Linked DNA regions of Homo sapiens: region 1 is linked to region 2. The links come from fine-mapping of genetic effects on plasma protein levels. A gene starts in region 2. The other region holds a variant in brackets. All regions are shown on one strand. Distances are between the middles of the regions. Region 1 overlaps LOC105378306 (a long non-coding RNA gene). Region 2 holds the start of MBL2 (mannose binding lectin 2).

The links. A credible set is the group of variants that fine-mapping cannot tell apart. PIP is the posterior inclusion probability: the model's chance that the variant is causal. Protein levels are from antibody-based Olink assays in UK Biobank. Linkage for the fine-mapping came from a reference panel and not from the study's own genotypes, which makes the PIPs less certain.
Region 1: its variant is the best candidate, but not a certain one, in a credible set for the plasma level of the MBL2 protein (UK Biobank, PIP 0.86).

Annotation. Positions count from the first base shown.
Region 1 is chr10:52,792,590-52,805,373 of GRCh38, reverse strand. The region is part of intron 2 of LOC105378306 (a long non-coding RNA gene); the gene reads right to left. All of the region lies in intron 2 of LOC105378307 (a long non-coding RNA gene), which reads left to right. Among named protein-coding and RNA genes, the nearest start is that of MBL2, 26 kb to the right of the region's middle. The variant C/T (reference allele first, on the strand shown) is at 5,643.
Region 2 is chr10:52,771,647-52,783,568 of GRCh38, reverse strand. MBL2 (mannose binding lectin 2) reads left to right here and starts at 10,785. Exons shown (of 5, transcript NM_001378373.1): 1 at 10,785-10,832. LOC105378306 (a long non-coding RNA gene) reads right to left here and starts at 4,411. Exons shown (of 4, transcript XR_945963.2): 1 at 4,026-4,411. LOC105378307 (a long non-coding RNA gene) reads left to right here. Exons shown (of 4, transcript XR_945965.3): 4 at 1,031-1,428.

The DNA of each region.
Region 1 (12,784 bases), 21 kb before region 2:
CTGATAGATAACATAAATATGAAAATCAACTGAAAAAAAAAGGGCAAAGGGGGTTTGAGTATGGAGAGTATTTCATTTCTTTGTGGATCTGACTTGGGATGTGGGCACTTGTGAGTAACACCACGGCTGCATTTTAAATTCACAGTTCTTTTGTGTAAAAGACATGTGGGCAGAATTCCATTAATTTAGTGAATATGATTAAGGTAGATGCTCAAGCCAGAGAGAAAATCAGAAAGATATTTCTCTTTGCGTTGAATGCTCTGTAATCCAGTATTATTTGATAAAGGGAATAATATCAAAGTTGAGACTCAGGTGCACACTCCTAGAGCAATTTGACATTGCCAGGACCTCCAGGTGTGATCACTGGACCCCTGTGGTTGATCAGGGTAGAGACCTGCTCTCTAACAATTGATCAGCGTTTCCTGAGTCTGACCCCAGCATTAGTCATGCACAGTAGGACCACCTTACAGTATGGCATATTTTAAGATTGGTTCTGCAATTGTAACCTCAAAGTCTAGAAAATCCTTAGTGCATTTCCTTTGAAAGATGATTTCAATATAACTATAACTTAAGAAGCTAACTTGTTGGAACTGTCATTGATGGAACGTTGAAATAAATATCCAGAGCTTAATAAAATTGCTTTCAAAATCTCTGAGAGGTTTCTCTGCTGTGAGTATTATTAAAATAAATCATATAGACATATTACACATGCCCTGTGAGCCATTTCGTCACCCCCACTCAGTCCAGATCAGAAAAGTCCATAGGAAAGATGCAATTTTTTTGACACACTAAAATATTTAAATATTGATAAATACGGCATTTGTTGAAAGTGCTCTTAGAGGTATTCTAATATAGGAGATTGCTATTTTTCATAACTTATAACATTATGATTGCAGAATGACATAAGTTTAACAGAATTATCTATATTAATTGCAACTATGCTTATTTCAATGAATAATGTGTTCAGTTTGTGTAATTCTTTTATTCCTGTTATGTTACTTTGATTATATTTATTGAAATGAAATTTTAGGGTGTTAAAATACAATATTTGGGGCTTGACTTTTTATTTCTTTATTTTTAAAATTTTTTCTAATAAGGCATTTTACAAAACTGTCAGTCTGGAAATTAAACAAATTAATAAAAGATTCTTCACACATAAGATACGAGAAGCACTGCTCTAGATCTTATTATTCCTCCATAATTTTCTCTGAGCTGTGAGATTCTGACCAAACTTGATGGTGAAAAAAAAATTGTAGTAAGGACACTGGAAACTTTCTGGCAATGCAAATTCAACAACATAAATCGTATTTTATTTTCTTCAAATAAGTAGTTTTCTCTGAAGTTTCATAATAATTCAGGTAATAGTTATTTTCTGTTTGGTTGTTTTTGTTTTTGTTTTCCTCCTTCCAAGCCCAGAAAATCCACCAATTGGAAGGGGAGGACTCTTTTCTTCCCATCCCACTCATGAGAACAGTGAAGGTAATGTCCACAGGACATGTTCCTTACAGTCCCACCTTGTTGGACCCCACTCGGTAATTTGGAGTCTTGTGATCGTGATCTGGGAAGAAAGGGCAACAGCTTTCCAGGTGAAGGTGCAGGGAAGAGTTGTCTCCTTGGAGTCCAGGATGGGAGCCTACTGCTTGCTGGGAATCTCAGCTGGTGAAAAGGATGCAGGGCAAGTAGTGGTTAAGCATGGTCATTTGAGCATCAAGGTGAAAAGCTGCTTCTAAATTGTAGGGACCAGATCCACACAGCGATCTCTCCAACATGGGTGGAAAAGGATGTTCTTGGCCACATTAATCACACCTCTCTCCAGAAATCCAGGCACCAGGAATTAAGCCAAACACCAGATGAGGGCTCCCCATGTGCTGTTAAGAACTGCAGCCTTCCTGCAGGAGCATCAGTAGACCCAAAAGGCCAGAAAACATCTTCCTGAAGCCCCAAAAAACAGAAGCCTCAACTGTCTGCCCTTTCTATATTCCTGAACTGTAGAATCTTTGAGCATAATAAAATGGCTGTTGTTTTAGCCAATTCAAGATGATTTATTATGTAGCAATAGTAACTAGGACATACCGATGTTTGTGTTAAAGTCAGAGGAGCTTTTAAAATTTTTCAGACCATTGCAGATGTTATATTTATCAATTTGCAGTAAATATCAATATATCCAGATCCGTACACATTTTACTAAATCATAATCTTTATACTAACTTTCATTTATTTGAAATGTACATATCACTAACGACACATTCCACAATATATGAATGTTGTTGAAGATTGGAGCTTTTCCTCATCCATGTTTATTATTTTAAAATTTACTGTACATTTCAAAACTCTGTATTGTTGCTTATTACCAACTTACTAAGGATAATAATTGCAGACATTTTACTTTGTGAAATTTTAATGTTTTTATATTAAAATAATACGTTTGAACAACTGTAATAAGAACTCTAGTGAAAGCATTGGTTTAAATTACTATAATATATCATAACTATAAGTAAAATAGTTCTATTTTAATTATGTCAACTGTAATAAAGGAACTGTCAAGCAGTGCAACTGTAAAAAGAGTAAGAGTTCATTTGCAAATGGAAAGCAAATAAAATAGTGCATTGCATTCCAGAACTAAATTCACATTAGAAGTATGTTGTATACATATTTAAGTGACATACTTAAAGCCTTAACATCTAAGTAGAATAAAAAAGTACTTGACTTGACATCTTTGCTTACCATCCAAAGTAATGATTTTAATATTTACTTTTTTTCTTCAAAATTGGTAGATATACATCCAGGAGTAAGTGAATGTGGTAAGGCTACAGTATTCTATTAAACTGAGTCATGTAATTAAATGTATTTTATAATACTAATGAACATATATTCCATCTTTATATAGACATATACATATGTGCATGTCTATATGTGAGAGATATATTTGTTAATTATGTCACTTCACAATAAATGCTGGACAGTTTATTTGTTTAACTATGTCCATTTAGAAGATCCAAGAAAATTTTGTTGCTGACATTAATCTGTAGATTTCTTATTTTTTAATTTTTAAGTGAGAATTGTATGTGTTAATATCAAGAGGATATTGTATTCATTCATTTAAGCCTAAAAACACTTTGCACATATCTTCCCCTTTTTAGTTAACATTCACTCTGACAGGGAAATCTTTGGATTATGATTAATCTGCTCTGAATTCTTTAGGAGAGTAGTTTTACAATAATATCTCTGAGTCATTGCTTGGTGGGGAAAGTTACTTGGTTTATGAGTATTTCTTAGGAATACACATGTTTTCTGTTTTTCTGACCAATGGGATACGTTTTTCTATTGGGACACCAATTAAAACATTGTGCTTGTCAACAAAACTCAGATTATTCTTAAAAGAGAGAAAAAATATAAGTCCAAACAACTGAGATAGAAGCTAGGGTTATCATTAGTAAAGAAACTGTAGCCACTCAATTAGCCAGAAACTAAGGATGCTTGGTAATTTTTGTGGTTGCATAGTGTCCTTTTCCCGATATTTAGACATGATTGCAGAGTGGTGTTGTTTATATCTTGTTTGGCCACAGTCACTTGTGGCCTCTGATTATTGATAATATTCTGAGGAGTATTTCTGGTCTGTAAGAAGCAGTATAACATGTTGTCAGCTGTCAAGACTTTTTTTTTTTTTTTTAACTTCTCGAGTTTTATAATTCCAAGAACATAGGACTTCACTAGTATTCAGGTGTTATACATTCTTTCCCCACCTCACCCCCAGGCCACTGTTTATTATGGATTATTAGTCAGAGAGAGTTTCATCAGATTTCATTATCTATAATTTCCCAAGTCAATCTCTGAAATAAAAGCAATTACAGTTAGAAAGTTGAAAGCTCAGAAGCATTCAGGATGTATTTGAGGAACTCAGAGTGTTGGTTGGGGGATTGAAGCAGGAATATAATGGGTAGGAGGCAGGACTAAATTGCAGCTCCCAATCAGATGGACAGAGCAGCATGTGGAGACTCACATCGTGAACTTTCACTCCAGTAACTACTGCACAAACATACCGGGAAAGCTAAGAGAATCTAAAGACCCTTTGAAGGAAGTGGATTGCTCTTGCAGGCCACTGGAGACAGCCGGAAAAACTCAGAAAGCAAAGGATGTAATCTCTTTGGAGTTCTAGGGCCCCATCCACCACCTGATCCTCCCTATGCTACTGCAGTTGATGCTGTCTTGAAAGCACCACCTCCTGGCAGGAGGCCAACCAACACAAAACTAGTGCAAGAAACAAAACTACAACTAAGGACTCTCACAGAGTCCATTTTACTTCCTTGCCACCTCCACTAGAGCAGGTGCTGCTATCCATGACTGAGAGACCTGAAGATGGTTCAAATCACAGAACTCTGTGAAGACACCCAACGGTACCAGTCCAGAGGCTGGTAGCTCAGCTGGGTGGCTGGATCCAGAAGAGACATAACAAACACTACAATTTGGCTTTCAGGAACCCACATCCCTAGGAGAAGGGGGAGAGCAACACATCAAGGAAGCACCCCATGGGACAAAAGAATCTGAACAGTAGCCCTTGAGCCCCAGATCCTCTCTCTGACATAATCTACCCAAATGAGAAAGAACCAGAAAAACAATTCTGGTAATATGACAAAACAAGGTTGTTTAACACCCAGAAAAGATCACACAAGCTCACCAGCAATGGATCCAAACCAAGAGGAAATCTCTGAATTGACAGAAAAAGAATTCAGAAGGTCAATTATTAAGCTAATCAAGGAGGCACTGGAGAAATGTGAAGTCCAACTTAATGAAATCAAAAAAATGGTACAAGATATGAAGGGGAAAATCTTTAGTGAAATAGATAGCATAAGTTAAAACAAAACCACAACTTCTGGAAATGAAGGCGACACTTAGAGAAATACAAACTGCACTAGAAAGTCTCAGCAATAGAATCAAACAAGTAGAAGGAAGAACTTCATGGCTCAAAGACAAGGTTTTTGAATTAACCCATTCCAACAAAGACAAAGAAAAAAGAATAAAATAATGAACAAACCCTCCAAGAAGTTTGGGATTATATTAAATGACCAAGCCTAAGAATAATGGGTATCCCTGAGGAAGAAGAGAAATCTACAAGTTTGGAAAACATATTTGAGGGAATAAGCAAGGAAAACTTCCCCAGCATTGCTACAGACCTAGACATCTAAATACAAGAAGCTCAAAGAACACCTGGGAAATTTATCACAAAAACATCATTGCCTAGGCAGTCATCAGGTTATCTAAAGTCAAAACAAAGGAAAGAATCTTAAGAGCTGTGAGGGAAAAGCACCAGGTAACTTGTAAAGGAAAACCTATTAGATTAACAGTAGATTTCTCAGCAGAAACCCTACAAGCTAGATGGGATGAGGGCCCTATCTTCAGCCTCCTTAAACAAAACAATTATCAGCCAAGAATTTTGTATCCAGTAAAACTAAACTTCATAAATGAAAGAAAGATAGTCTTTTATAGACAAACAAATGCTGAGAGAATTCACCACTACCAAGCCAGCACTACAAGAACTGCTAAAAGCAGCTGTAAATCCTGAAACAAATCTTCAAAATACACCAAAATAGAATCCCCTTAAAGCATAAATCTCACAGGACCTATAAAACAACAAAACAAACAAA[C/T]AAATAAATAAATAAACAAGGTGTTCAGAAAAACAAATAGCATGATGAATAGAATAGTACCTCACATCTCAATACCAACATTGAATGTAAATGCTCCACTTAAAAGATACAGAATGGCAGAATGGATAAGAATTCACCAATCACGTATCTGCTGTCTTCAAGAGACTTATTTCACACATAAGGACTCACATAAACTGAAGGTGAAGGGGTGAAAAAAGATATTCCATGCAAATGGACACCAAAAGCAAGCAGGAGTAGCTATTCTTATATCAGAACAAACAAACTTTAAAGCAGCAGCAGTTTAAAAAGACAAAGAAGGACATTATATAATGATAAAGAACTTGTTCAACAGGAAAATATCACAATCCTAAATATATATGCACCTAATGCTGGAGCTCCCAAATTTATAAAACAATTATGATTAGACCTAAGAAATGAGATACACAGCAATACAATAATAGTGGGGGACATTTCAATACAATACTGACAGCACTAGACAGGTTATCAAGACAGAAAGTCAACAAAGAAACAATGGATTTAAACTATACCCTAGAACAAATAGACTTAACAGATATTTACAGAACATTAAACCCAACAATGACAGAATATACATTCTATTCATCAGCACATGGAGCATTCTCTAAGATAGACCATATGATAAGCCACAGAACAATCTCAACAAATTTAAGAAAATTGAAGTTATATCAAGTACTCTTTCAGACCATAATGCAATAAAATTGGAAATCAACTCCAAAAGGAACCCTGAAAACTATGCAAATACATGGAAATTAAATAACCTGCTCCTGAATAACCACTGGGTCAACAATGAAATCAAGATGAAAATGTAAAAATTATTTGAACTGAATTATCATATTGATACAACCTATCAAAACCTCTGGGATACAGCAAAGGTGGTGTTAAGAAGAAAGTTCACAGCCTTAAATGCCTACATCCAAAAATCTGAAAGAGCACAAATAACACAAATAGACAATCACACCTCAAGGAACTAGAGAAACAAGAATAAACCAAACCCAAATCCAGCAGAAGGAAAGAAATAACAAGGATCAGAGCGGAACTAAATAAAATTGAAACAAACAAAAAAATATAAAAGATAAATGAAACAAAAAGCTGGTTCTTTGAAAAGATAAACAAAATTGATAGACCTTTAGTGAGATTAACCAAGAAAAGAAGAAAAAGGACTGAAATAAGCTCAACTAGAAATGAAACAGGAAATATTACAACTGATACCACAGAAATACAAAGGATGCTTCAAGGCTGCTACGAACACCTTTATGCACATAAACTAGAAAACCTAGAGGAGATAGATAAATTCCTGGAAATATACGACCCTCCTAGATTAAACCAGGAAGAAATAGAGACTCTGAACTGACCAATAACAAGGAACAAGATTGAAATTAAAAAAAAATTGCTAACCAAAAATCCTCTAGGACCAGACAAATTCACAGCTGAATTCTATCAGACATTCAAAGAATTGGCACCAATCCTGTTGACATTATTCAACAAGATAGAGACAGGGAACCCTCCCTAAACCATTCTATGAAGCCAGTATCACCTTAATACCAAACCAGGAAAGGACATAATCAAAAAATAAAACACAAACCAATATCCCTGATGAATATAGATGCAAAAATCCTTAACAAAATACTAGCTAACCGAATCCAACAGCATATTTAAAAGATAATCCACCATGATCAAGTGGGCCTCATATCAGGGACGCAGGGATGGTTTAATGTTCACAAGTCAATAAATGTGATATATCGCATAAACAGGATTAAAAACAAAAATCACATGATCATCTCGATAGATGCAGAAAAACATTTGACCAAATCCAGCATCCCTTTATGACTAAAACCCTCAGCAAAATCAGCATAGAAGGAACATACCATAATGTGATAATCTATGACAAACACACAGTAAACATAATACGGAATGGGGAAAAGCTGAAAGCATTCCCCCTGAGAACTGAGACAAGGCAAGGATGGCCACTCTCACCACTTCTATTTGACATAGTACTGGAAGTCCTAGCCAGAGCAAGCAGACAAAAGAAAGAAATAAAGGGCATCCAAATCAGCAAAGAGAAGGTCAAACTTTCACTGTTTTCTGATTATATGATCGTATACCTAGAAAACCCTAAAGACTCATCCAAAAAGCTCCTAGAACTCATAAATGCATTCAACAAAGTTTCAGGATACAATATTAATGTACACAAATCAGTAGCTCTGCTATATACCAACAGTGACCAAAGTGTATTAGTCTGTTTACATACTGCTATAACAAACTGCCTGAGACTGGGCAATTTATAAATGAAAGAGGTTTAATTGACTCACAGTTCAGCATGGTTGGGAATGCCTTAGGAAACTTACTATCATGGCAGAAGGCAAAGTGGAAGCAAGGCACCTTTTTCACAAGGTGGCAAGAAGAAGTGCCCAGCGAAGGGGGAAAATACCCCTTATAAAATGATCAGATCTCATGAGAACTCACTCACTATCATGAGAACAGCATTGGGGAAACTACCCTCATGATTCAATTACTTCCCTTAGCACATGGGGATTATGGGGATTACAAATCAAGATGAGATTTGAGTGGGGACACAAAGCCTAACCATATAACAAGCTGAGAATCAAATCAAGAACTCAACCCTTTTTACACTAGCTGCAAAAAAATTTAAATAAAATATTAGGAATATACCTAACTAAGGAAGTGAAAGGCCTCTACAAGGAAAAGTACAAAACACTGCTGAAAGAAATCATAGATGACACAAACAAATGGAAACACACATGGATGTGCAGAATCATGAATTTCAGAATTTCATCTCATGGATGAGTAGAATCAATATGGTGAAAATGACCATACTGCCAAAAGCAATCTACAAAACCAATGCAATTCCCATCAAAATACCATCATCATTCTTCACAGAACTAGAAAAAACAATCCTAAACATTCATATGGAACCAAAAAAAAGAGCCCACATAGCCAAAGCAAGACTAAGCAAAAAGAACAAATCTGGAGCCATCACATTACCTATACTATAATATAATACAGTATAGTATATTCAAACTATCCTATAAGGCCATGGTCACCAAAACAGCATGGTACTAGTATAAAAATAGGCACAGAGACAAATGGAAAATAATAGAGAACCCAGAAATAAAGCCAAATTCATACAGCCAACTGATCTTTGACAAAGCAAACAAAAACATAAAGCGGGGAAAGGACACCCTATTGAACATATGGTACTGGGATGATTGGCAAGCCACATGTAGGGGAATGAAACTGGATCCTCATCTCTCACCTTATACAAAAATCAACTCAGGATGGATCAAGGACTTAAATCTAAGACGTGAAACCATAAAAATTCTAGACGATAACATCGGAAAAACCCTTCTAAACATTGGCTTAGGCAAAGACTTCATGACTGAGAACCCAAAAGCAATGCAACAAAAACAAAGATAAATAGATGGGATTTAATTAAACTAAAAAGCCTCTGCACAGAAAAAGAAACATTCAGCAGAGTAAACAAACAATGCACAGAATGGGAGGAAATCTTTGCAATCTATACACCTGACAAAGGACTGCTATGCAGAATCTACAAGAAACTCAAACAAATCAGCAAGAAAAATACAAACAATCCTATCAAAAAGTGGGCTAAGGATATAAATAGGCAATTCTCCAAAGAAGATATACAAATGATCAACAAACATATGAAAAAATGCTCAACATCACTAATGATCAGGGAAATGCAAATCAAAACCACAACGCAATACCATCTTAGTCCTGCAAGAATGGCCATAATCAAAATATCAAAAAATAATAGACGTTGGTGAGGATGCAGTGAAAAGGGAACACTTTTACATTGCTGATAGGAATGTAAACTAGTACAACCACAATGCAAAACTATAGAGATTCCATAAAGAACTAAAAGTAGAACTACCATTTGATCCAGCAGTCCCCACAACTGGGTGTCTACCCAAAGGAAAAGAAGTCATTATATGAATAAGATCCTTGCACACTCATGTTTATGGCAACACAATTCATAATTGCAAAAATATGGAACCAGCCCAAGTGCCCAGTAATGAACAACTGGATAAAGAAACTGTGGCATATGTATATATACATACCATGGAATACTACTCAGCCATAAATAGGAATGAAATAATGGCATTTGCAACAGCCAGGATGGAACTGGAGATCATTATTCTAAGTGAAGTAACTCAGGAATGGAAAACCAAACATTGTGTGTTGTCACTTATAAACGAGAGCTAAGATATGAGGATACAAAGGCATAAGAAGGATACAATGGGCTTTGGGGACTTGGGGAAAATGGTGGGAGGGGGGTGAGGGATAAAATACTACACACTGGGTACAGTGTACACTGCTTAGAGGATGGGTGCACCAAAATCTCAGGAATCACCGCTAAAGAACTTACTCATGTAAGCAAACACCACTCTTCCCCAAAAACCTATTAAAATTTTTTTAAAAAACAAAAAAAGTATTTGCATAATTCATTTGCAATAGAAAGTGATAAGCCATGTAAGATCTATTTGCTGCAAATTGAAATACATATTGCTTCAGCAAAGTTACTTAACTGGGTAAAATACTACCTGCAAATCTAAAGACACGGAAAAGTGTTCTAATATATACTAGATATATTATATCTAGTATATATTTATCAAGTGATATTTGATGGGCCAATAAGCTAAAAAGTTGGAATTAGTTCCTAGATGAGAAATATAAATTTAGAAGCTTTTTAAACACAGCGTCTACATGTATTTCTCAGAATCTAATATCGTTAATTTATACTTGTTTTCTGGAAACTACCTACATATTGTAAGTGGCATTTAGTTTGTGATTATAATTTTTAAGATAATTTCACCCTACACTTTTTTTTTTGCTTAATTTGCTTTTCTGAAAGTTAATAATAAGAGCTTATATGTGTCAAGCACTTAAATATTACAAAAGTCATTTCATTTGAAACTCACAAATAATATGCAGAAGATATATTTACTATAGTCATTTTGATAAGGAGGAACAGAAAAAAAAATTGGTCGAGGTAGTACAATAGAAGGAGCTAAAGACTGGAAACTACCATGGATTTGCCATGTGGTTTATAATTATGTTATACTCCCTGCTAGAAGGCAGGAAAGAATTTGCAGAAGACAATATATGTAAAAGGAATTGGCAAACTGTGATTATTGTATTATTTTGAAACATTAAGGAAAATGATAAGCAGCAAGATCGCAAGTTTCCACAGGTCTTTTCTGTTTCTTACTCAGATTGTGTGACATAAGCACAGTGCCATATCAAGGGCCATATATATCAATCATGGCTCAAAGAATGAAATGAAATTCAAATGTACAGTAGAAAATTTTTAAAATGACTGTTACTTGACTGACTAGCTTCTTAATAAGTACTTGCCATTCTTCTGTAAAACACTGTGGCTGTTGCTCGTAACAAGCTCAGTACTAAAACTAGGTATGCATGTCCCTATGAACATCCACCCCATTACACAACCATCTTCCAGTTCATCTTTTGTCTGAGACTAGGGTTTTACTTATTAATAATACAAAAATCCACATAGATTCAGGCTCAGTAAGACGTAATCCATTTTGATTACATTTCTTCTTTCCTTGCTAACACTTTAAACAATAGAATAACCTGCTTGGTGAAACAATTTAAAGCACCAAGAGAGATTCTGTAATGCCTTTTAAGATAGATTTTGAGATTACTGCCTTGTTGAAAAAGACTTTCAGTGAGAATCATGGTTTATTTTCCACTGTAGATATTTGAAAAGTTTTAGAAGTTGAATTTTTCACTAGAATATTTGTTCTATTAGAAAGGATCCTTGTCTATTCTGTTCACTGTTGGCTCCCTACTACATATCATAACACAGCCTTGTGATAAGAATTTGTTGAATAAATAAATACATTCTAAGTATCCTTCACTGTCATCATGCATTTCTTTTTAAGGGATAAGCCTTCAAATGAAATAATGCCTCTAAGGAAGTTCTATAACCACAGAAAGAAAGATTCAGATTCTCATTAAATTCACATTTTAAATTTTGAAAATATTTACAAACATATGTATCTGATAGCAGACGACAGAACATTATTCTGATAGTTTGATCTATTAAGTTCTTACAATTGTAATTAAATTTTCTTGGATAACTTCTAAGGTGCAGAAGGATTATTGAGTCTTGCTGACTGCTGATTTCTTTGTTTTGCATTTTCTCTAATCTTAGGAGAAAATAAGGATTTTTTCCTTTTTGCCATGTCAGAAGATTGATTTCCACATAAGTTTTAGGACTTCCCTTGAGTGAAGAGGCTATTAACTCTAAAATAGTATCGAAAGAAGATTCCTGGAAGCAGAAAGGTGATTTAATTTTCACTTAGGTAGGTATCTTAGTCTTTTAAGAAAAGCCTCTCATTAGAATTATATTAGTTTTAAAATCTTTATCCTGGACCTTTCTGTTAGTTAGGTCTTAAGCAGGTTTTGACCTTCCTTTTTATTTGAAACATTAAAGATAGCAAAATCACAGCTTTGATTAGAAAAATTTTAATTGGTAAGGTAATGCTAACTCTGGAAGCAAACACCAAAATAATTGTACTTGGGGAAAATATGGATAGAAGTTTATTTTTCAAAAAAACTTGAATACTGACAATATTCCTTCTCTTAAAATTGCTGTCTTCTAAGTAGGAATTCAAGGACTCAGTCACCTTCTGTCACGTAGCATGCAAAAAACTTACCTACCTATTCCTAGTTTGCCAAGAATTTTTTTAATCATGAAAGAGTGTTGGATTTTGTCAAATGCATTTTCGGTATGCGGTTTTTGTACTTTATTGTATTAATCCTTTGTATTTTATTGATAGATTTTCATATGTGGGACCAGCCTTGCATTCCTGGGATGTATCCCACTTCGTCATGGTGTATCCATTTCTATATGTTGCTGGATTTGTGTTGTTTATATTTTTGTGTCTATATTCATAAGACATATTGTTCTGAAATTTTATTTTTGTAATGTTTTTTATTTTGGTACTAGGGTAATACTGATCTTATAGAATCAATTGGGAAGCATTTCTTCCTCCTCCATATTTTGGAGGAGTTTGTGAATAATTGATAAATTC
Region 2 (11,922 bases):
CTGCCAGTTCTTCGGTTTTGCGCTAACAATCCTGCAGAAACTTGAACTTACTCTTCACACAAGTGCTGGATCTCTGTATGGAAATGATGAGAATTTTTTCAGTTTTCTGTGATAGGTTCAAGCATGTGTGTCTTGGCATCTTCCACTTGTGTTGTGATGAATTAGATTTCTTTTTCTAGAGCCTGTATCTTTCTTTTAGGATCAGACACTGATTGTCCTTGGTCTGAACATTGAGGCTTCTCTTATCCCATGGTTGACTAGGATGCGAATGCAATTCTATATTATTCACAGAGCTCAATTTGCCCAGAATACCAAGCACTTCTGGATTTTCATATTCTCTGATCATAGGTTGACATTTCATGTGTTACAGAGTGGTTGCCAGTCCTCAAGAGTTTACCTCTGGTGGAGGAACACGAAATACTCACAAATCATCCACCATTCTGAGATATGTGTGTCCTGTAGTAGGGGAAAGAAACCATGAGAAAGAAGAAGGTATAGCATCCCAGGCAGTGGGCCAGACTGCACTGAGGCAGAAGCAGGAACAGAGTTTGCCATGTTGAAGAAGTGAAAGAACAAAGGCAGAGCAGTAGGCCTGGGAAGGCGGAAGCGGAGGTTTTCTGCAAGAAAAGGATGTGAGGGGAGTTTAGGAACTCACAGTGGACCAGTCACACTCTAGTGATGACATAAAAAGGCAGATGTTGTCAGTTGGAGCCATGGTCACACAGAATATTGATTGGACTGAGGAGCAAATAATGGCTTTAAAGGCTAGCAGACTTTGGGTTGTATTTGCAGTTCTTCCCTCATCTGAGAAATGGGGACATTTACTCTGACACCCACAGGATGCCTGGAGAGATTAAATGCCATACAGTCTGTAAAGTGCTTGGGTCTGACCCTGCACCCCACATCACAGGGGGATATCCAGTGCTAAGATTCATACAGATTCTGCAGGTCTTAAGCACTTTTGGTTAGCCTTGGTGGGTTTTTTCAAACCTTTAAATATTAATCTTCCCCAAATTTATCTTCCTTCCAGGCCCCCACAGGGTCCAGCCCTCCTTCTGTGATTTCTTCAAACTGACACCCTGGAGGCTGTTGATGAGAGGACACCCTCTGGTGAGGAGACACTGGGTTCACAGTCCAAAGGCAGAGTACCAGTCATACTCAAGGTGAAGAAAAATTGCACACAGTAGGCCCGAGACTATTATTTTTAGAGGCCTACTTGCAAGGTTGGCCTTTGGCTGAAGTCTGGGAGCTTGTATTTCTCAAGAGTTCCCACCATTCCCAGAACTTACAAGAGTGGCTCACTGTACCTAAACTGTTATACAAACAATATGATTTATGCTAAACACCTCTTTTCCTTCTAGGAGTCCGGAATTTTGGTGCATGCTAGGCAGAAAGTGACCAACATCCAATAAAAACTTTGGACACTCAGTCTCTAATGAGCTTCACTCGTACATAATATTACACATATGTTGTCAGAGTCTGTTGCTGGAGGAATTAAGCATACCCTCTGTGGTTCCACTGAAAGAGGACTCTTGGAAGCTTGCAATTGGTTTCCTCCAGACTTCACCTCCTGCACCTTTTTCCCTTTGCTGATTTTGCTTTGCATCTTTTCACTATAATAAATTATAGCCATAGCTGGGTGCAGTGACTCATGCCTGTAATCCCAGCACTTTGGAAGGCCAAAGCGGGTGGATCACTGAGGTCAGGAGTCTGAGACCAGCTTGACCTACATGGTGAAACCCTGTCTCTACTAAAAATACAAAAAATAGCCAGGTGTGGTGGCACATGTCTGTAATCCCAGCTATTTGCGAGGCTGAGGCATGAGAACTGCTTGAACCCGGGAGGCAGAGGTTGCAGTGAGCCATGATTGTGCCACTGCACTCCAGCCTGGGCAATAGAGTAAGACTCCGTCTCATATAAATAAATAAGTAAATAAATTATAGCCATGGGTATGACTATAGGCTGAGTCCCAGGAGTCCTCCTAGTGAATCGTGGAACCTGGGAAGGGCCTTGTCACCTCAACACAGATGACATACTGTATACCAACTCAAGGCGTTGTGTGAATTAAGTGAGGTATTACCTATAAAGCAACTAGCACACAGAAGCACATATCAGTTAGTCAACAAATGCCTGTTCCTTCTCCCTCCCTTTGTCCTTCTACATCTTTCTAATTTTTCTCTCATAGCTCATTGCTTTTATTGATTAACAAATGTTTGCTGTGGTCCCATGTTTCAGGCAGTGTGAAAGATACAGGATAGGATGACCACAGTGAGCCCGACCCTCTCTCCTCATCTCACAGTCCAATGTCTGAAGTTGTCTGTCTCCATTTCTGTGTTTATATCTGGGCTGGCTTGAGACATCAGGGATGGGCAAGTTTCTGCATCTCTTCAGGATGTGCCTGTGGGCCCTCAATCCTCCCAGGACAAATCTTTGGCCAGGTCCATGTTTCCTAGGGCAGTTCCTGAGGAGGAAGTGTCCAGGCAGGCCCAGCTCCCTGTGTATCTGCAAGAGCCTCTTTTATCCTTTACAAGATGCAAGACCTGCTACCTGTGTTTCCAGCCTGGCATGAAGAATCTGGCTAAAATCCTAACCCCACAGCCCAGAGCAACAACCTCGAGGAGGAGTAGCCTCAAATGAAGCACCAGCCAGCAGACCCCAGAGCCACCTGACCTGGAGCAGATCCAGTGACTGGTTGTTCAGGGCTTACAACATAGACTCCTGCCTATCCAGAGGGTAGAGACCACAAAGTCAAATGGAGCCCAGAGTTCATCCACGTAGCATGAGCCATGACCAAGGGCTTGGTGTCCTGATTCCCGAGGTCTAAGTTCAGAGACCAGAGCAGAGACCAGGAGCTCTGATCTCCTAACCTTCAGCCATGATCTCAAACAACCAAGCCCAGAGATAGATGGACTGAGGCTAGACAGTCAGGACAGGGACCAGACCCCAAATTTAGAACTCAAGTTTCAAAGAAAAAAATTAGATCAAGGCCCTGGGGTCAGCCCAGAGAGCAGCTCCCAGAACGAGGAGACCAGAATCCAGGCCCAGAATCTGCAGCCCAGAGCTCACATCTTGGAAAGGGAGGAGAGGAGAGACAGCACTACTATTTGCGAGATGCCTGGCACCCTGGGAAGTTCCAGAGACCCGAGTCTGGATTTAGTCTTTCAAATGCCAAGATCTTTACTACACCTAACATTTGCAATGCTTTTCTTTCTCCTTGAAATGTACTCTGATCTCTCAGGGTATCCCTTGGCCCCCTGCAGTCCTAAGCATGGCCACAAGATGGCAGGGCTGACCCATACTTTCCCTGTGGGACACAGCAAAGTTTGTTCTTCCCTCAAGTGCCCTGGGCCTTCAGGGCCAGGATACCCCCATCCCTCACCATGGCCCCTGGAGGCCATACAGAGCCGCCTGAGAAGACAATCCTCCCTCTCCACCATTCTATCGCTCTTTAAACAGGGGAGTCAACTTGGGGCCAAGTATTCCTGGGTGAGTCTGACCTCGTTATTCTAGGTCTGCGTGTGTCTGTCCGCACCTATCTCAGAAAGCAATCCTTCTTGGTCCTCTTTCAGCGCCAAGAATTTTTTTTCTTGTTTTCTCAGTGGGTAGAGCTTCCCGATTAGCACTCTTACATATTTACCATTACTAAATGCTCTCCTTCCGCCCATTTACAGCTGAATAACTGAGGCTCAACAAGATGAGGGCGCTTGTCTAAGTCACAACCCTCAGGTCAGGATGGAGTGGAATGAAAATGAGATATGTGTACATCTGTCCGTGACACCTTCCTGACCCCCTCACTTGGGGGGTCTGGTGACTGGGTACCCAACTGTATGCAGAGGGGAGAGGCAGCTGGTCTGTAGCCCAGCCAGCCCTGTGGAACCAGCCTTTCCTTGGCCCTTCTGGAAGAGAAGGTCTCCCTTAACCCTCCCCGACCGTCCCCCACCTCCAATTCAATAGGCAGTTCACTCTCAATCAATTCAACGCACTCTCCTCCAGGGTCTCTACTTTTCTGTCCAGGACAGACTCACCTGTATCTCCATCTTCCTATTCTAGAGAGGTGTTTGTGGGGATTGATTGGGTTCCTCTGAGGTAAGTGGGTCTCTTAAAGCTGCGCTGGGCTGGGGGCCGATGTGGATGTGTTGTGCTTGAGGAGGGAGGGAAGGAGGGGAAGAGGGAGGGAAGGAGGGGAAGAGGGAGGGAAGGAGGGGAAGAGGGAGGGAAGGAGGGGAAGAGGGAGGGAAGGTGGGGAGGAGGGAAGCAGGGAGGGGAAGAGGGAGACAGAGATGGGAGGAGGGAGGCAGGGAGGGGAGGAGGGAGAAGCAAGGAAGAAAGGAAGGAGGGAAAGAGGAAAGGAGGAAGGGAAGAAAGAGGGAGCCCAGCCTCCAGCCTCTGGGCCCAAAGCCGGCAAGGCCCACCCCTCTGCCTTCCTTTGCTGCTCAGCTTTGCCGCGAGGCCGGGCTGGAGGGACCCTTGATGTCACAGCTGCAGACAAAGGGAGCACACAGGGCCTGTGGACTTACCGTGTGCACGACGATGCGGACACACCTACTGTGCCAGGCATCAAAGGACTCTCAGCTCCCAATTTACCCTTCAAAACATGCTCTGTGATTAAACCACAGAATTCCTTTCAGCGTTTTTCGAGTGAGCACGATGCAAAGCTTCTCAGTAGAGGGCGCTAGAGAGACATGGCAAGAAGAAGGGGGCTCCTGCAGTTTCGGGAGGCCCCCTCGGGAGTCGGCCTGGCGGGTGGGAACATCTGGGGGCACCGCGGTTGGAATGCGCAGTCTGGCCGCGAATCCGGGGGCTTGCAGTTGCGCCCTGGCCTCGCCACCAACCCCCTGCAGCCCTCGCGACAGGGACACCGAGGCACGAAGCCTCCTGCCTGCACCTCTGTTGTGCTGCCTCTGCTCGTCCCTCCCTCTTCCCCCAGGTGTGTCTCCCGCAATCTTAGGGAAGCGGTGCCCCTCCCAACAGGGACACCGCGCTCCGGGCCGCCTGTTGCACCTACGACCCACTCCCGCGGCGCGACCACTGCGGCCAGGACCTGCGGCTTGCCTGGCCCACCTGTGCTCCGGAGGGGGGCTGATGCCTGCTTGTCCCAGAACTGCAGAGAAGCTCTGGCCCAAAAAATTAGCACAGCCACCCAGTGGGTTCAACTACCCTTTCTCCAGTGAGGTCTGAACCATACAGAATGTCTTACATTCTATACTTTTTAATCAGGGTTTAATAATTCTTTATATTAAACTACCCCTGTTTAGATCACTGTGTGATGTCTGTTTCCTGATTGGCTCCAGAGTGCTAAACCTTTTCATCCTCGCAAAGCTACAGGTGAGCTCATTTAATCACAGGTGGGGAGACAGACTTTAAGAAATGGCACAGACTCCCATTCAGATACTCCCCCTCTCCCAAGCACATACACAAGTATATGTACACAAGTGCATGCACACGCACACACATGGATACATACAGGGTGAATTTTTGTCGAAGCGTACAGTGTGGGATCTTAGGTAAATTAATGATGCAATTAATCCGTTAATAATGCAATTAATCTATCATTAATCTACATCTGAGCTTTCTGTGTCTCTGGTCCCAGGAAGGTAGAAAAGAGCAGGAAGGGTACCAGGAAAGCTGCCTCATGATATTGGAAGCTCTTTGGGGTCACTTATGATTTTTTCCCTGTTGTACCCAGGCTTGGCTCTTACATGCAGCTAATCACAAGAATCAAGTGAGATGGTGTTGGGAAGAAGAGTGTTTCTGCCCAACTCCCTACATTTCTGATCCTACCCTAAATATCTAGATTTTTAACCATCACAGGGAAGGCGGTTTGGTGATCTAATTGGTTAGAGCCCAAGCACTCACTGTGCCATGGCTTTTGGTAAGCCTCGAAAGGTGAGCACCTCTCTGCGGTATCCTCCCTATGTTCCCAGTTTCAGGCCTGGGGAGCTGCCATCTCTGTCTCTTCCACTCCTCCTTGCTGGTATCTGTGGGACTGGTTGGTTTAGATGCAGGAGTACCATCTCTCCAACTCCGTTTTGTGTGTCAGAAAGCTTTGCTTGTTTGTCTTTAATACGCCAAATCTCCTGTTTCTAACCCCCTGACTTCCATCTCTCCAGTTTCCCAGTCCTGCAAGAGTCCTTTGCTCTGCTCTTGCAGTTTCTCCGTGTGTTCTTCAGCAATATGCACCCTGATGGTTTGCACTTTCTATCGTGTTTATTATTCTAATGGCTAATGTCCATGTTAATATTTCTACTTCATTGCTTTTCTACTGCCTCTTGCTTGTGTCATGTGGGCAGTATCTTCACTGATTTTTCTATGGATATTGATTATACTTATTTTAAATTACTGGTATTCCTTTCCAATAATTTTGCAGCCAGTAGTGTGTGCTTCTGGTCCTTATCTTTCCATTGTGCTGATCGTGCCCCTCTCAGCCTGCTCTTTATCTTAGCAGTGAGCAACCTCCTTTTGGGGGTGTAGCCTGTCTGGTCACCTCTGACACATGCTGCTCTAGGTCACCAGGTGAGCCAAAGCAGAGGCAGAGAATGGGCCTGGACAAGAAGTGTCCCTGGCCCCAGAAACCTATCAATGATGGTCACCCACTAGGAAATTCTTGTTTTTTTTTTTTAGAGAGGGAAGCTGCCCCAGAGGGAGGACGCTGGTGGAAGGAATATACCAGGCCTGGGAGTGAAGGGGCAGAAGGAAGAATGGCAGTAAGGAATGTCTGAGGAGAGTCTGAAAGCCACATGTGTTCTGATTTCTGTGGCAAAAGAGCAGGTCTTTGCTATCCTAACTACTGAGCTGCCTTTCACTGCAGCCACCCTGTGTTCAAGGCCATGTCACAGATAAGCATGTCTCTATCACATGGGCAGATATGACACCCTCTGACCACCCACCCCATGGCTATAGGGGCCTAAGGTAGTCCTTGCCAGATGCAGTGCGCCTGTGTATTTGTGTTGGTTAAAAAGAAGGCCTGTGACATTTACACATTCTCAGAGAGTTCATGAGCAAAAACAAGCAAAGAAAAAATAGCAGGACTGGAACACAGGACAGTACAGGATGAAAAGTATGGGAAGGTCAGGCCTTAGGGTTACAAAGGACACTGCTGACAACAAGAAAGCAGCCTACCGCTGTCAGCTGTCTCTCACAGCCTGTCTCTCATGGCCAGACCATGGTATTCCCTGCTGACCCTAAACACTTCCACAGAATACCGGTGTACAACAATATTACTCTGTTGTGAGATCCCAAATCATTCCAAAATCATGTCTTCATATAGACAGAAAAGGTTGCTCTGTGAACCACAAAAACGAAAAACATGCCCCTCTCCTGCTTAATATAAACATCTGCCACTCTTTTACAAAATACAGCTTCGCCTTGCTCTGTTCTACTTATCTCCTAAATAAAAGTTAAGATGCACAATCACAGAATTGCCCAGCTTACGGACAGCACCCTATCCAGAACAGACTCCTGCTTCTTAAACCCCTTCCCCCAAAACCAACTAAAACAAAACAAGTCTTATAGAAATCCCCTCCCGACACCCTGTTACTGAGAAATCCTAGGGTACACCATTGTGCTCAATATCCCTGTTGGAACAAACAGTTAAAAGAAACTAAAAATAATAAATCCATTTTATCTGACTATAAGCATATTCCTGATGGTCCTCACTTGGAGAGCAATAACATTCTCATTGCTATTGTCCTACTCACAGCAGCTCTGTGGAAAAGGGAATGAGGTTCAAAATCTGATTTGAAAGATGTAAAACTGAGGTTCGGCCAGAATATGGGGTCTATCTAAGCTCATATTCATGAGACAAAACCAAGCCTTCTGGTTTCCAATCTCAAACCATGCCTCTCACATGGAGCCACCCAAGAACACTGCTTCCCAAGCTGAGAAGACTCTTGAACAGTCACCCTGGAGGGAATGAAGGCCTTTCTTAAGCAGGCTGTCATGGTGAGCCACGTGCCATGCACTCTGAATGTGGACCAGTTAAGGACACACCACTCCACAGCCAAGGCAGCGGTGCCCTCTTTCCCAGACGAGGAAACTGAGGACATGAAGGCAGTGGAACTTGAATAAGGTCACACTGTTGGGAAGTGGGAGAGCTGGGATTTCACCCTAGTCTACAAAAAAGGGGATGTAGGGCACCAGGCAGTCCTCCTGCAGGTCAGAGAGGCAGTTTTCTCTGCAGCCTCTTGGGGTGAGGTGGATTTGTTGTGGCGCTGCCAGAATGGAAGCAGTGTTAGGAAAGTGGAAAGTTTTTTTTTTTTTTAGACGGAGAGGCTCTGTCGCCCAGGCTGGAGCGCAGTGGTGCAATCTCAGCTCACTGCAAGCTCCGCCTCCCGGGCTCACTCCATTCTCCTGCCTCAGCCTCCTGGGTAGCTGGGATTACAGGCACCCGCCACCACGCCCGGCTAGTTTGTTGTTTTTTTTTTTTTTGTATTTTTTAGTAGAGATGGGGTTTCACTGTGTTAGCCAGGATGGTCTCAATCTCCTGACCTCATGATCCGCCCGCCTCGGCCTCCCAAGGTGCTGGGATTACAGGAGTGAGCCACCACGCCTGGCTGGGAAGGGTTTTAAAGTCCAGAACAAATGCACACAGTGGCCTTATCTATGGGGTGGAGTGCAGAGTGGGCATTCGTGTGGAGAGAGACATTCAGGCTGCGGCATGTGGAGAGTGGCCTCTCCTTTTGGGAAAGGCCTTCTGGAGAGCAGGATGTAACTGGGTGACACTCCAATCTCCGGATCAATTGCTAGATTGACTTTCCCCCAGATACCCACACCCTCTGAACCCAGTTCTAGGAAATTTCAGGGTCTGGAGAGCAGTTTCCTGACCTCTGGACTAGGTAAACAATGAAAGCAAGCACTGTGATTAAAGCCAGCACCGCCAGTGACCTGGAGTCAACTACCTCACCTCACCTTCTGCCACTGGAGCAGGAGCAGGGGGAAGCTCTGGCTGCTAAAGAATAAGAAGGGAAACAAGTCTTCTCAGGCCCTGTCTTCTTTAGGCCCTGGATCTCCTGATATCCACTGATGGCTTTAGGCATGTGGCTCTGTACCATCCTGGACATTTTTCCAGGCACAGCAGACAGGTCAGCAGGAAGTAAGGAAGCCAGTCCCTCCACAAGCCAAGAAGACTTCAATTGGAAGGGACCTGGAAATGCATCTTACTCACATTTCTTTTGGTGTTTGGAGGCCTCCATAGTACCCCCACCACATGGCCCCGCAGCCTCTGAACTTCTCAGGATGGGCTCCCCAACACCCCAAGCTACATGGCATTTTTCTGAAAGCCATATCAGTAATGTAGTTGAGAATCAAATGAACTATGTTCGTAAAAGTATTCTTCCATCCCTTCTAGATTGTCCCCATTAACCACAGCAAGATGGTTCAAGCCATTAACACACACGATACCCATGATCTTATAGTGCCAAGTGCTGTTCTTTTGCTTCTTATCTCAGTTGAGTGGCTCCTAGATAGTCAAGTCATAAATGTGTGTGCCCATGAAAACTTCTTATTATCACTCACTATTCTAGCTAATTCTCAAGTGCAATCAATACCTCCTGTTTCTCAAGTGTGCCTACCTTCTTAATCTAGCTGCCATTACCCTGACCCAGGCCACTGTCTTCTGCTGCTTAGATCATGGCAAGCACTTCCTTTTAGATCTGCTTTTCTCCAGTCCTGTTCCCCTCAACATCATAGCCAGAACAAGCCTTGCAAAATTCAAATGTGATCACCTCTCCACTACTGCAGTCCCTCTAGTGCCCCCTGGAAGGAAACCCAAAGTCTTTAACACAGTTTACAATTCTTGTTATGAGGATGAAATTTGAAGACATTGTGCTAAGTGAAATAAGCCAGATACAAGGGGGCTATTGTATGATTTCACATATATGAGGTACCTAGGATAGATGAATTCAGAGAGACAGAAAGTAAAACAGAAGTTACCAGTGGCTGTGGGTAGGGGTAAATGGAGAATTCTAGTTTAATGAGTTGAGAGTTTCAGTTTGGGATGATGAAAATCATCCCATGATGTGGTGATGATAGCACAACCGTGTGAATGTACTTAATGCTACTGAGTTGTGTGCTTAATAATAATGGTCAAAATGGTAAATTTTATGTCTATTTTACCACAATGAAAAACTGGAAAAGTAAAGTCAATGACTATAATATCATAAAGTGTAAGTAACATGAGAGAAAATAATTCAGGCTAAGAGGATAGAGACTGCTAGGTAGGACTATTTTAGAATAAGTGATCAAGGTACTGATTTCTCTGAAATTGGAATATTTGAATAGAAGAGAAAGAGCTAGCTGGCGATGCCCGTAAGGGGTCCAGGCATGGAGACATCAAATGAAGAGTCTGAGGCAGGAATGGCCTTAATGCATTAATGGCAGCAAGAGGTCTATGTGGTTTCATGGATGGGTGTGTGCGTGCATGCACGTGTCTGTGTGTATAGTTGGTGTGCATGAGCATGTGTATGCATTTGTGAGTATCTTTGTTTTTCTGTTGGAAACAAGGATGTCAACAGGACTAACTAGGTGAACCTAGCTGTGGTAGTTCAGCAATGAGATTTGCCAAAATGGATGGCAATTGAAAGAGGAATTGTGCTGTATTAAAGCAGACAGCTGCCGAGCACTGTATTGGAGGCTCCTAAATTTCTCATAGTTCTGAGAAGAGCTGTTTATTAATCTGGAGTTGAAGGCCAGGCCCAGGATATCCTTGTTCACAAGGTTGATTGGGCCCTACATTGCTGAGCCCAGCCTCCTCCCTCACTCTGAGGCATCTGCCAGAGCCCCAGGCTAGAGGGCCAGCGTCCTTGTCACTGAGTCCCTGCTCTGCAGAAACACCAGTAAGTCATTTCTGGTGAATAAATCTGGGTTTCCGGATCAAGGGTTTGGGGAGCTGACATGACCCTGGAGGCATGGAGGAGGCTTTCTAGGGGTGGGGGGAGTGGGATGGAAAGCAGAAATCAGGTTGAGGATGTCTCTTTTTCTGCTTGTGCTGGAGCATCTGTGACTTTCCTCCATTATCTGTTCATCTGCAGTGGAGACTGTCTTTGTTTTCAAAGGGAAACTTGGAGGCTTAGACCTATGGGGCTAGGCTGCTGAGGTTTCTTAGGGGGCAATAGCTGGAAGAAAGCTCTGAAGAACAAATGAAAGGTTAATACTGAGAAATGGGAGGAGGATTCAAGGCAAGTTTTCTAATTGCCAGTGGTTTTTGACTCACAGAACATGGGGAATTCCTGCCAGAAAGTAGAGAGGTATTTAGCACTCTGCCAGGGCCAACGTAGTAAGAAATTTCCAGAGAAAATGCTTACCCAGGCAAGCCTGTCTAAAACACCAAGGGGAAGCAAACTCCAGTTAATTCTGGGCTGGGTTGGTGACTAAGGTTGAGGTTGATCTGAGGTTGAGACCTTCCTCTTTGGATCACCAGCTTTCAGCTCAGGGCCTGCCAATGAGTAAATGATAGTTAACAGGTCCTGGAGGGGAATCAGCTGCCCAGATACAAAGATGGGATTCAGGTGGCAGATGGACCCGAAGAGGACATGGAGAGAAAGAGGAAGCTCCTACAGACACCTGGGTTTCCACTCATTCTCATTCCCTAAGCTAACAGGCATAAGCCAGCTGGCAATGCACGGTCCCATTTGTTCTCACTGCCACCGAAAGCATGTTTATAGTCTTCCAGCAGCAACGCCAGGTGTCTAGGCACAGATGAACCCCTCCTTAGGATCCCCACTGCTCATCATAGTGCCTACCTTTGTTAAAGTACTAGTCACGCAGTGTCACAAGGAATGTTTACTTTTCCAAATCCCCAGCTAGAGGCCAGGGATGGGTCATCTATTTCTATATAGCCTGCACCCAGATTGTAGGACAGAGGGCATGCTCGGTAAATATGTGTTCATTAACTGAGATTAACCTTCCCTGAGTTTTCTCACACCA